Linked DNA regions of Homo sapiens: regions 2 and 3 are each reported to be linked to region 1. The links are microRNA targets in miRTarBase. Many come from high-throughput screens and were not tested one by one. Region 1 holds a microRNA gene; each other region holds the end of a gene's coding sequence. Distances are between the middles of the regions.
What was found. Region 1 holds the annotated microRNA hsa-miR-6884-5p (AGAGGCUGAGAAGGUGAUGUUG, at 1,932-1,953, opposite strand). A microRNA usually pairs through its seed, bases 2 to 8, with sites in the 3' UTR of a target mRNA and lowers its output. Matches are read on the target gene's strand: a 7mer-m8 pairs with bases 2 to 8, a 7mer-A1 pairs with bases 2 to 7 and ends in A, and an 8mer does both.

Region 2: the mRNA of SYTL3 is a reported target of hsa-miR-6884-5p. The part of its 3' UTR that is shown has no 7-base or 8-base seed match.
Region 3: miRTarBase lists RAP1GAP2 as a target of hsa-miR-6884-5p. Seed matches in the 3' UTR shown: 7mer-m8 at 3,669-3,675.

What each region holds. Positions count from the first base shown.
Region 1 is chr17:40,024,452-40,028,559 of GRCh38, forward strand. It overlaps MIR6884 (microRNA 6884), which reads right to left and starts at 1,958; the gene lies at 1,881-1,958. MED24 (mediator complex subunit 24) reads right to left here. Exons shown (of 26, transcript NM_014815.4): 15 at 3,458-3,495; 16 at 2,932-3,014; 17 at 2,405-2,583; 18 at 2,196-2,295; 19 at 1,705-1,880. SNORD124 (small nucleolar RNA, C/D box 124) reads right to left here and starts at 3,194; the gene lies at 3,091-3,194. RefSeq lists an enhancer at 2,196-3,106.
Region 2 is chr6:158,764,064-158,768,171 of GRCh38, forward strand. It overlaps SYTL3 (synaptotagmin like 3), which reads left to right. Exons shown (of 18, transcript NM_001242394.2): 18 at 432-808. The coding sequence ends at 541. It overlaps EZR (ezrin), which reads right to left. Exons shown (of 14, transcript NM_001111077.2): 13 at 3,198-3,449; 14 at 1,685-3,015. The coding sequence ends at 2,851. It overlaps MIR3918 (microRNA 3918), which reads right to left and starts at 690; the gene lies at 598-690.
Region 3 is chr17:3,032,076-3,036,183 of GRCh38, forward strand. RAP1GAP2 (RAP1 GTPase activating protein 2) reads left to right here. Exons shown (of 25, transcript NM_015085.5): 24 at 336-374; 25 at 1,317-4,108. The coding sequence ends at 344. Among named protein-coding and RNA genes, the nearest start is that of OR1D5, 29 kb to the right of the region's middle.

The DNA of each region.
Region 1 (4,108 bases):
TGAACCCAGGAGGCGGAGATTGCAGTGAGCCTAGATAGTGCCACAGCACTCCAGCCTGGGTGACAGAGCGAAACGCCGTCTCAAAAATAAGTACATAAATAAATAAATAAAGACATCCTCAACGTTGCCATAAAGACATGGCAACACCCAAAACGTATTAGCTGGTAAACACCCATGTTCACAGCAGCACTATTCACTATAGCCCAAAGGTGGAAGCAACTGAAGTGTCCACTGACAGAGGAGGGATCAAGATGTGGTATAGCCACACAATAGAGGTTTCTTTTGTTTTTGTTTTGTTTTTTGAGACAGAGTCTCACTCTTTCACCCAGGCTGGAGTGCAGTGGCGTGATCTCGGCTCACTGCAACCTCCGCTTCCTGGGTTCAAGCAATTCTCCTGTCTCAGCCTCCCAAGTAGCTGGGATTGCAGGCGCCTGCCACCACTCCCTGCTCATTTTTATATTTTTAGTAAGGCCAAGGTTTCACCATGTTGGTCAGGCTGGCCTTAAACTCCTGACCTCAAGTGAGCCACTCACCTCAGCCTCCCAAAGTGCTAGGATTGCAGGCGTGAGCCACCACGCCCGGCCCACAACAGAGTATTATTCAGCCTTAAAAAGGAAGGAATTCCTGTCACGTGCTACTACATGGATGAGCTTTGAGGACACCATGCTGAGTGAAGTCAGTGAGTCACGAAAAGGCAAGGACTGTATGATTCCAGTTAAATGAGGCATCTAAAAAGTAGTCAAATTCAGCAGGGCACGGTGGGTCACGCCTGTAATCCCAGCACTTTGGGAGACCACGGTGAGAGGATCACTCAAGGCCAGGAGTTCAAGACCTGGCAATATAGTGAGACCCTGTCTCTACAAAGACTAGAAAAATTAGCCGGCTGTGGGCCTGCAGTCCCAGCTACTCGGGAGGCTGAGGCGAGAGGATCACTTGAGCCCAGGAATTTGAGGTTGCAGTGAGACTCACTCTGATCTGGGCAAGGGTAAGACCTTGTCTCAACAACAACAACAACAAAAAGTATAAAGTAGTCAAATTCCTAGACACACAAAGTAAAATGGTAGTTACCAGGAGCTGGAGGGAGGGGAAAATAGGAAGCTGTTGTTCAGTGGGTATGGAGTTTCAGAGATGCAAGAAAGTTCTGGAGACCTGTTACACAACAGTGTGAATATACTTAACACTACTGAACAGTACACTTAAACATGGCTAAGATGGCAAATCTTATGTGTTTTTTACAATTAAAAAAAGCAAACAACTTATTGGTTGGGTGAATGAACTCAACGTAACTGGTCACCAGGGAAGTCCTCCAAGCCCCTGAAGAGCCAGGGCAGGAAACTGTCCTAAGAGGTAACTGAGGGTGGGGCATGGCCTGTAAAATCTACAGACAGGTTCCTAGCTCCTAGACAGTCACACAGCTTTGTTCTTTTGGGAGCTAGTTGTCTAGAACTTGAGTCTCTGCGGGCAGACCCTGTTTAGGGTCTGCATTTCTGACAACACAGCAGGTGCTGGCATATAAACGCTTCTGCCACAGAGACACAGTACATGTTTGCTGAGTCAGATGAGTGAATGCATGAATAGGAAAGTGAGTGAGTGATCAAGTAGCGTGTTTGCGAAGGTCAGAAAAGAGAGGGGTGCTTGTTATTGGATGTGCTGACTTCTCACAACACACTTGAAGGGTCTGAGAAGGGAAGGCAGGTTACCGACCTCTCATTGTAGAACTGCAGGGTGTTCTCACTAAACAGTGGCCCTGCCAGCTGGCGGATCATCTGCAGCGACTTCTCACGCTCATCCAGCCCCAGCATCCGGACGTGGGCCACAAGCCAAGCCACAGCACACACCGCCAGACTGCATACCTTCCCTTTGATGTTATCAGTGATTTTCTAGGGGAGACGGAAAGGTGATGGGCTACCATCTATCTCCCTTTCTTGAGCCAACATCACCTTCTCAGCCTCTGCGGGCAGCTAAGTGCAGCGGGTGGAGTCCCGGGCCACATTCCACACCTCTCTCCACAAGTTTGATCTTCCCAGAGCTACCTGGGCCAGAGGGAGTAGCTAAGACAACGATTACACAAAATATCAATATCAAAACATGAGCTCCTGGATTAAAGGTCTTCTTGCCCTTACGAAATATAACAAGTCATCACTGGCTGGCTCTGTGTCTCAGGGGAGCAAACGCTGCTGGGAAGGCGGGGCTACCTGGATGGACTCGAAGGCCAGGACCCCATTCTCCCAGGCATTGAGGATTTCCAAGATGGCGGCTGAGATGCTGAGACAGGCCTCATGCCACTTCATCTGCCTGCGGGTGTGCAGAGAAGTCAGCACAGGGGAGCAAGGAACGGGCTCAGGGAGCGGGTCTTGACCCTGCCCCCACCGCCACCCTTGGAGTGGGCGCCCGGGCCACTGACACTAGCTTCATCTCCGAGGAGTTGTTGAGCAGGGCCACCAGGGACTCCACTTTGGTGGAGTCGGGGCGGAAGCAGGGGTGGTCAGGGTTCAGGATCTTGCCCTCCTCAGGCATGCAGGTCTGCATCCAGGTCTCGAAGAAGGGCACCTCAGCTCCTGTGCGCGACTCGGACAGAATCACCTGGGAAAGGGGAAGGGGGGCACCAGCCGAGTGGGGAGGGCGCGGCGCCTGCCAGCGCTGGACCTGGGGCTGCACTGTTTCCCGCCAGGCTGCTGCTCCAGCCCAGCCCAAAGACTGGGGACGAACTGGTCTAAGGGAGCCAGACGGGGGCAATGCTGCCACCTAGTGGTCAATGTGAACATAGGGCTGAAGGTGCCTCTACGGACTCCAGCCCGGGTGGGCACCTGGTTTCTGAGGCCCACAGAACTAACTGGCTGAGAGGCTGCGGGGGCGCAGGCAGTGAGGTGGGGAGAGTTCCGGGTTACCTCCTTCCCTTGAGCCCCCGTCCCGGTCGCTCCCCTCTCTCACCTCTGAACCATAGGTCTGGGCCACATGGCACAGCATGAGGAAGGAGATGTCAAACAGCAGGGCCCGGACGGAGGCCGGTTTGGCTGTGGAAGGACGGGAAGGCTGAGCTCCCAGACGAGGGCAGGGGGGAGCCCGTGTCTGGGTTGACAGGGATCGGGATTTGCCTCTAGGAAGGTCAGGGACCAAGTGGCTCCTTCAAAGCTCTGAGGCTCAGAATCCTTTTCTTGAGTCTCAACTGGAACATCATCCCTTCCTTGAGACCAAAGACCCCCAGCACCCTCTCCTGGCATACCTAACCAAGTCGTAAAGGGATGAGGGGGGGAAGGAGACACAGGGATGGTCTGGGAAGAATCCTTTTCCAGCATTATCCACTTTCAAGCTCTGTGGAAGCTTCCATTGGTCATGGCTCTGAGGAGGGAGCACAGCCTCCCCCTGTTGAGCTGGGGAGCCCTCCTCCCTCCCACACTCTCCCGCCACACCCCTCCTCAGGGCCCACTGGGCCTGCGGATGCACAGGGCTGACTTACTGCTTTCTTCGCTGCCATAGGTTGTGAATTCATTCAAACTGAAAGGAATGGAGACAGGCTGCATTGACCAGGGCATGAGCTGAGCAGTAGCTGGGCGCTGGGGCTACACATGTTCAGAGAGCGATAGCTAGAGTCTGAGTTACTGGTTAAACTTAAAATGAGACACATTGCTATAGAAAAAAGGTTTTTGTGGTTTTTGTTTTTTGTTTTTTTTTTGTTTTTTTTGAGAAAGAGTCTCGCTCTGTCACCCAGGCTGGAGTGCAGTGGCACAATCTCAGCTCACTGCAACCTCCGCCTCTGTTCAAGCAATTCTTCTGCCTCAGTCTCCCAAGTAGCTGGGATTACAGGTGCCCGCCACCACACCCGGCTAATTTTTTGTATTTTTAGTAGAGACAGGGTTTCACCAAGTTGGCCAGGCCGGTCTTGAACTCCTGACCTCAGGTGATCCGCCCACCTTGGCCTCCCTAAGTGCTAGGATTACAGGCGTGAGCCACCGCACCCGGCCAGAAGGATTTTTATTGTTAGAAGATTTCCAAGGCCTAGAGAATGGCTCACTGAATGGAACCATGTTCTATATATGTCAAATTCCAGGGCAATCAAAAAAGGCAACAGAATTTGAGAGCCCCTTATTAATAACTGGGCATACTTGGA
Region 2 (4,108 bases), not on the chromosome of region 1:
GCTTCACTGCTCCATTGCTTTTCAAAGATATTTTGTCCAAAGCATACTGTCTTCCTCTAAGAATCCCTTCCCATGGGCAAGCCCAGCCCCCAGTCTGAGACGGCCCCACCCAGCTAGCCATGCTGGTGTGCAACTATCCACTCCCTTGGTGAAGACCCAGCCCACCAAACCAGAGTCCTCGCCTCACTTTCAAACTACAGAACTCCAGGCTGTTAGAGCCTCGCAGAGCAGAGGATGCCTGCGTGAATCCCAGTCTCAACACCAGCTTTGTTGGGGTGGGAGTGGTGGTGGCGGCGTCTGTCATCAGTGGTTGGCCTTTTAATGTGGACTTGAGGTGAAAAACTTCTGGCTGGTCATCATTTTTAAAGGGATGAGAGGGGATGAAGTGGTGCCCTCCCCGACCATGGCTAAATTGTCTTCCTCTCTTACAGAGGGAGACACAGCTGTTGGCGGGGATGCATGCTCACTATCGAAGCTCCAGTGGCAGAAAGTCCTTTCCAGCCCCAATCTATGGACAGACATGACTCTTGTCCTGCACTGACATGAAGGCCTCAAGGTTCCAGGTTGCAGCAGGCGTGAGGCACTGTGCGTCTGCAGAGGGGCTACGAACCAGGTGCAGGGTCCCAGCTGGAGACCCCTTTGACCTTGAGCAGTCTCCATCTGCGGCCCTGTCCCATGGCTTAACCGCCTATTGGTATCTGTGTATATTTACGTTAAACACAATTATGTTACCTAAGCCTCTGGTGGGTTATCTCCTCTTTGAGATGTAGAAAATGGCCAGATTTTAATAAACGTTGTTACCCATGTCCTCCAGTGCTTATCAAATGAGGTAAAAGGCCGGCTGGTGGGCATGGTAACTCCCCCCTGTAATCCCAGCAACTTTGGGAGGCTGCAGTGGATGGCTTGAGCTCAGAAGTGTGAGATCAGCCCAGGCAACATAGATACCCTGTCTACAAAAAAACCAAAAAATTATCCAGGTGTGGTGGTACACACCTGTAGTCCCAGTTACTCAGGAGGCTGAACCGGGAGGATTGAGCCCAGGAGGTTGAGGCTGCAGTAAGCCCCGATCATGCAACTGTGCTCCAGCCTGGGCCAAAGTAAGACCCTGTCTCAAGGCGGGGGGGGGAGTCACAGCTTCGCTGTGAGAAGCACTTTATTTTTTGAGACGGAGTCTCCCCGTCACCAGGCTGGAGTGCAGTGGCACGATCTTGGCTTGCTGCAAGCTCCGCCTCCCGGGTTCTAGCAATTCTCCTGCCCCAGCCTCCCAAGTAGCTGGGATTATAGGTATGCACCACCACACCAGGCTAATTTTCGTATTTTTAGTAAAGATGGGGTTTCACCATGTTGGCCAGGATGGTCTCGATCTCCTGACCTCGTGATCCGACCACCTCGGCCTCCCAAAGTGCTGGGATTACAGGTGTGAGCCACTGTGCCCGGCTATGAGGAGCATTTTAGAGGAGCCTGATGAGTGTTGGAGCAGTCTTTCTCTCCTGTGGAAACCATCTCGAGGAGGTTAGGTGACCCATGGAGCACCATGTCTTGGGTTGGTCAGCTCCAACTTACCAGTGTACCCCCAGGGACACCACGGCCCCTCACGAAACCTGGCCAGAGGACAGCATAGAGCCCAGACGAGTCGGCGGTAGCCCTCCCACCCCACACACAAGCACACACCCGTGCTGCTTCGTGCCTTTGCAAAGCTTTTATTTCATGTCTGCGGCATGGAATCCACCTGCACATGGCATCTTAGCTGTGAAGGAGAAAGCAGTGCACGAGAAGGAATGAGTGGGCGGAACCAACGGCCTCCACAAGCTGCCTTCCAGCAGCCTGCCAAGGCCATGGCAGAGAGAGACTGCAAACAAACAAACACAAGCAAACAGAGTCTCTTCACAGCTGGAGTCTGAAAGCTCATAGTGGCATGTGTGAATCTGACAAAATTAAAAGTGTGCATAGTCCATTACATGCATAAAACACTAATAATAATCCTGTTTACACGTGACTGCAGCAGGCAGGTCCAGCTCCACCACTGCCCTCCTGCCACATCACATCAAGTGCCATGGTTTAGAGGGTTTTTCATATGTAATTCTTTTATTCTGTAAAAGGTAACAAAATATACAGAACAAAACTTTCCCTTTTTAAAACTAATGTTACAAATCTGTATTATCACTTGTATATAAATAGTATATAGCTGATCATTAATAAGGTGTATAAGTACAATGTATTCTAAAACTGTTAAGCAAAAAAAAAAAAAACAAAAAAAAAAATCCAAGTGTCCTCCTCCACCACTCACGCTGGTGATCACTGTGCTCTCTGCCAGCTGCGTGGAGTGACGGGAGGAGGGAATCACTGTGTGTGCGAGAGTGCTTCAGACTCAATTTCCAAAATAATTTTCACCCCTCTAAGCATGTAAATATACAAAGATGGATCCTTCATAGAAATTAAAAAATCAATTTGAGCTCATTTCGAATACAGAACAAGTATGGCACAGATGGAAGTCCTGCCACGTTTCCTTTAATGATGCTGACTCTTGTATCACACAGGCCAGCATGAAGTTTCTTACTCAGACTTTACAGGCATTTTCCGTAATTCAATCAGTCCTGCTCCCAGCACAACACAGGAGGTGATTCGAGAATAATCGCGAGAATCAGGCCTGCTTGGCACTATTACAACTGGGGAAAACAAACCAGGGCGCCTCCCTGGTTCCCAGCCCAGAATGTTTCTGTTGGGTAACTGCTTTCTAAAGGAACTGGGATCTGAGGGAGTTCCTAGACTTGGAGCACTAAAGACACAAGCGTGGCGGGGCTGGCAGCGCCCGCTATGAGCACCCCTCTGCCCTTGGTCCTGGCCTGGCTGTTACAGGGCCTCGAACTCGTCGATGCGCTGCTTGGTGTTGCCCTGCCGGATCTGCCGCAGCGTCTTGTACTTGTCCCGGCCTTGCCTCATGTTCTCGTTGTGGATGATGTCATTGTGGGTCCTCTTATTCTCATCTCGGGCCTGGGACAGCTCGCTGCTCAGCGTCTGTAACATTAAGCAGCATTGGTCTAGTCCCTTCCTCCCCATATGGCCCGGCCCGTCCCCTAGGAAAACAGGAAGGGCAAGAGGGGTGCTGGGTGGGGCTGGCTCACATCACTGCCCTCCCCAAGCCTGTCTGCTCCAAAAGCGAGGCAGGCTCCCTGGAGACAGAGCCCCTTGGGCCTCACCAGCAGCTGCCGCTGCACACGCTCGTTCTTCTCTGCCTCAGTGATGCGCTTCTCCTCATTGCGGTCATCCCGGATGCCCTCACTAGACAGCTCCGCGCTGTAGCCCGTGGGCTCTGCGCCCTCATCCTGCAAGCTCTCCTGGACATGGTAGCTCACCGGCTCGTACACGGGGGGTGGTGGGGGCGGGGGTGCTGTCATCACCAGGTGCAGCTCCTCCTTGGTCTTCACCAGGTCATCCTGGGCTTCTTTGGCCTTTGGAAAGCAAATTAATAAGAGGACTTCTCACCCAGAAGTCCTATCCTCCTGGCTATGAGAACAGACTGTCACCTCCCTCTGTCCTGGCAGGCTAAGGCAGCACTGAACTGTGCTGGGCTGTGGCTTCGAAGAGGAGCACCCTCAGGGTGCATGGGGGGTTTACAACCCTCTGCGTCCAAGACAGGAAGAGGAACTGTGATGCCGGAACCTGGGCAGTTTTAAAACTACCATTTCTTTTTTTACCTGTAACTCTAGACATTATATAATTTTTAGAAAAAAAATCCTGTTAGCATGAGTAACGGGCTCTGTTCCTAGCCTCCCTTCATGCCACAGTCATTATCAAGTGCTCTCCTGCTCGCCACTTGCAGTCCTTCCAACAGCTTCACACACACCCAGTCCCGCCCGCCTCCATCCCAGCCAGCCCTAGAGTTGAGCTTAGTGTGGATCTGCTTTGTAGCCAGCTCTCCTCACTTAACAGGTACTTTCTCCAAAAACCTAAGAACCAAAGTCTTCCGCTTGCAACTTGGGATGGTGATATGGCTGTGTCCCCACCCAAATCTCATCTCCACCTGTAATCCCCCCATGCTGGGGGTGGGGGGCATTACCTGGTGGGAGGTGACTGGATTACGGGGTGGTTTCCCCTATGCTGTTCTCGT
Region 3 (4,108 bases), 37 Mb from region 1:
CTTCAGACTATCGAGAGCTCCAGGTCCAGATGTGAGGTGGGAAGGGCTGGTTCCTGGGTCCCGAATCCCTTCCTGAGCTCTCCAGACTATCGAGAGCTCCAGGTCCAGATGTGAGGTGGGAAGGGCTGGTTCCCGGGTCCCCCAGTCCCTTTCTGAGCTCGCCAGACTATCGAGAACTCCAGGTCCAGATGTGAGGTGGGAAGTGCTTGTTCCTGGGGTCCTGAATCCCTTCCTGAGCTCACCAGACTGTTGAGAGCTGAGTGCACAGAGCCGCCGTGGAAGGGACCTGTGCTGTCTGGTTATTTAAACTCCTGTATGGATTTTTGTTGAAACAGGGTCACTAATGTGAAAGTGGAGTCCTTCGCCTGTCCAAGGTGGGTTGAGTGAATGTCCTGCTGTGGCCGTGAGGGGGGACGTGTGTTTCTTTTAGATCAGGGAACTAGAGGCCTTGTAACCTCAGAATGGCCGGAGAGATGCCGCCAGCTGGGGATGTCCAAAGAGTCTCCTACTCGCCCCTGAAGACCTGCAATGGGGAAGGAGGGGCAGATGGCCTGTGTGCGGATGGGAAGGGGGTTCCCAGTGACACTGGACTAGACGTACTAGTTAGGCCTCCCTTCCACCGATGGGGTCTGGTTCCCGCAGGCAGAAGGGGAGTCGCCCAAGCCCGCTTCTGACCCAGGAGGGAGGAGTTCCTGAGGGCTCCCTTGCTCCCCTGCCCTCAGGCAGCTGTTCCCTCCTTGTGTCTTTGGCGGAGGCCCTGGGCTGAGGTGTGTTCTCCCTCCCTGTCGGGAGTCAGCACTGTGAGGGACCACCCCAGGAGGCCTCTTCCCCTGCCTGCTTTGAGGGGGCACGTGGTTTGAGCAGAGTGGCCGTGGGTCCAGCTCGCCCCCATCAAGGCCTGGATTTCTGCTGGGGAAGTCACCAGAGACCCATCTGAGCTCCCAGCCCTCTCCCCACATGGGGCTTCAGGGGTCAGAGTCACAGCTGGAGCCAAGAGGAGGGGTACAACCGAACCCACTCTGTGTTCAACCTGATTTATGAAAAAGCAGAAGACAAATGGGCATATGGACCTTCACCCCCGGCTCCCATCACGCACTCTGGACGCCACTGCCCACCAAAGCCGTGGCTATGCGCAGCTTCTCGGGCCACGCAAGGTGGGGCACCCTTACATCAGGTGCCCTCCTGCTCCTGAGTGTATCCAGTGAGCTGTAGCCATGGGCAGGCGTGTTCCCCACCCCTTGCTCCCGACGTCCGCGTCGTCCCCTCCTTCCTGTACGGAATGTTCGCTCATCGCCGCCTCCTCCTTGTCTCCTCAGGGAATCCCCTCTTCTGTCCTGGAAAAGGCTCCTGTACCAGCAGTTTGGGAGTGCCGTCCACGACCCTGACAGTCCCAGCCCTGCTGCCCCATGGCCACGTGCCCACAGATGTGCTGTTGGTCCAGGTGTCCCAGTCTGGCCACAGCCCTGCCTCCGCCCTCACCTACATGCCCTCCCAGCCCCTCCCATCTCTGGACGAGGCCTCCTTCCTCAGGTTCCTCCTGCTCCTGACCTCCCAGTGTGATGTCCGGGTCCTTTATCATCCTATTCATCCTGGAGAGGAAAAGTGTCGGGCAAAGGGGGATCTGGGGGGAGCTCAGCAGTGACTGGGGAGCTGGTCTGCCTCAGAGACAGAGTAGGGGGTGGGAGCAGAGCCTCGGTGAGGGTCTTGGCCACAGGGCAGTGCCTTCCTGAACGTGGCAGGCTTTACTACCAGGAACGCACTCGGTGGTGGAGGCCCCATGTTCCCAGGAGCCAAGATTCGTAGCATCCTTGAGGCCATCCTGATAAAATTCGGCGCTATTGCCCCCGTAGCTCTGGAGCTCTAAACCGTCTATCTGCTTCTGTGCTGAACGCCTTTCCCATCTGCTGACGTAGGCCCAGGGCTGCCCTGCCCCTGCTGCCAGTGTACCGTGAGCGGGGCTCCAGCCAGTTCAAGCTCAGAGCCAGAGCTGGACGGGCCAGAACTGCGCTGCACACTTCCTGGACTGAGGCGGGGACTTTGGGTCCCACCCGGTTTCTCCTGATTATGGCTGCTGTGGGGTGAGGGGAGGGAGGGGCAGCCCCGAGGCAGTCTCTTCCCTTTGAGAAGATATTTTCCCACAAAGGGGTGGGAAGCCAGGAGTGAGAAGGAATTCAGGGAGAGCAAAGGAGCCAGTGCTGAGATGCTGCTGTGTTGGTTGAGGAAAACCTCGGGCCTGAGGGCCAGGCCGGAGCCCAGGTCTCTGCTGACAATGGGGGTTCAAGGAAGACGTCGTTATCTCCCCTCCCCACTTACTCGAGGAGAGAGGTGAGGGGGGGATGACTTGCGGGTTCTGATCAGGCCCCTGGGTGGGGAAGGGGCACAGTGTCCCTCAGCAGCTTACGCCCCTGGAGTCTTGGGGGGCCCAGCCTGGCCCTGGGGCCTTTTCCAGCTACTGTGCCCTTGGGCAGCTGCGTCTGGGGCTCAACCCCCCAATCCTGTTCCCCTCTCCAGCTGCGGGTCTGTAGGCAGCTGTCACATCTGAAGGGTTTCTGCAACCTGGACCCCATCTGGGTGTGGGTCAGACCCTGTGACCCACATGCCACCCCCACCCTCCACAGAGCCCCCTTGCTGGGACAGCCAGCTCACCTCCAAGGACATCCCCTCCTGGCTTCTCCCCCTTCCGAGTCTGCAGCGCCGTGGGCTTCTCTGCCGATGGGCCCGGGTTGGGGTTAAGGTGGGCATCCTCCAGGTACAACGAGCCTGAAGAGCCCCTTTCAGTGCAGACGGGGCTGCAGAGTGACACTGGCTGGGCACCTGCCCCACGACCAATGACAAGGATTTCCAGCTGAATGCTTTATTCCCATAGGGATCTGGACCTGTGCCCAAGATATAAATACTACACTTTTTTTTTTTTTTTTTAACTGACATTGTGAAATTCTCCCTATAGCTTTTGCCATTCAAGCAACATTGTGATCTTTCTTCCCCGCCACGTGTGTGGGAATGATTGAGTCCTGTTTGCAAGCTGGAGAGGAGCTCTCCCTTTGCTAGTACTTTCTCTAAAGTACTAGTCTAGTAAAATTTATTCTTGTTAGAAGGTCAACAAAATATCTGTTTAGCTTTTATGAAGAGTCACCGTAGCAGCCCCCACGGCTGGAAAGAGGCCTGTACGTTCTGGACGCGTTTTGTTGGCTGGGCTTCTGGAGGCACTGGCAAGGTCAAACTGCATTTCTTTAAGAACAGTTGCAGGATCTGGCTCGCCTCTGTGGGAAGCCGGCATTACAGGTGCTTGGTGGATGGGCCGTGTCACATTGCCATCTGGGGTCCTTTGGGGTTTCCAGGTTGTCACCATGCTGTCCCATTTGGGAATCCCATACCTGCCTGTCCCCACTGCGCTGGCTGACCCTTGCTGCCTGCTGCCTCTTGGGAGGGCTTTGTCCCTGCCTCTGAGCTGGTGGGCAGGATGGCTGGGTGGCCCCCAGAGAAGCACAGACCTGAGATGGGGTCTCCATGCCCGGTTTGCTGTTGGAATGATCTGAACAGGACCCCAAATGCCTCTTCCCTCTGGTCATGCCTCACTATCTCTAGGAGCTCCATCCTGTGGCTTCCAGAGTGTGCACTTCCAGCCCACCCGGGCAGTGCTGAGAGGGAGGAGGAGAACAAGGATGGCCCAGCCTCCCCTCCCTCCCCTAGACCACGGGGCGGGCAGCTCGGGTTCCTGGAGGGCTGTTTCCCCCACGCTGTCCCTACATCTGCTCTGATCTAAAATGTCTTTCCTTTTATGCTGCGCCCAGTCTTGGGGCTCAAAGATTTGCCCAAACCTCATTGGCCCTCGTGACTAGGCTCATCTAGATGGTGCTCACGCTGGTGTTTGAGGCATTTCCACTGTGATCTCCACGAGGGGATGTTTTCCGGGACACATCTCTGGCTCTGGGAACTGCCTGACTCACTGAAGAAACTACTTTTCAGGCACTGTAGGGTCACCCATATGCCTCCAGCTCAGTTGACGCTTAAAAACAGGTGCAGAAAAGCTCGCGATGGAAGGTCTTAATGAGAGTGTCTGTCTATGCCAATCATGTAAAATGACGTTTCTTGAAAAAGATTCAGTGGT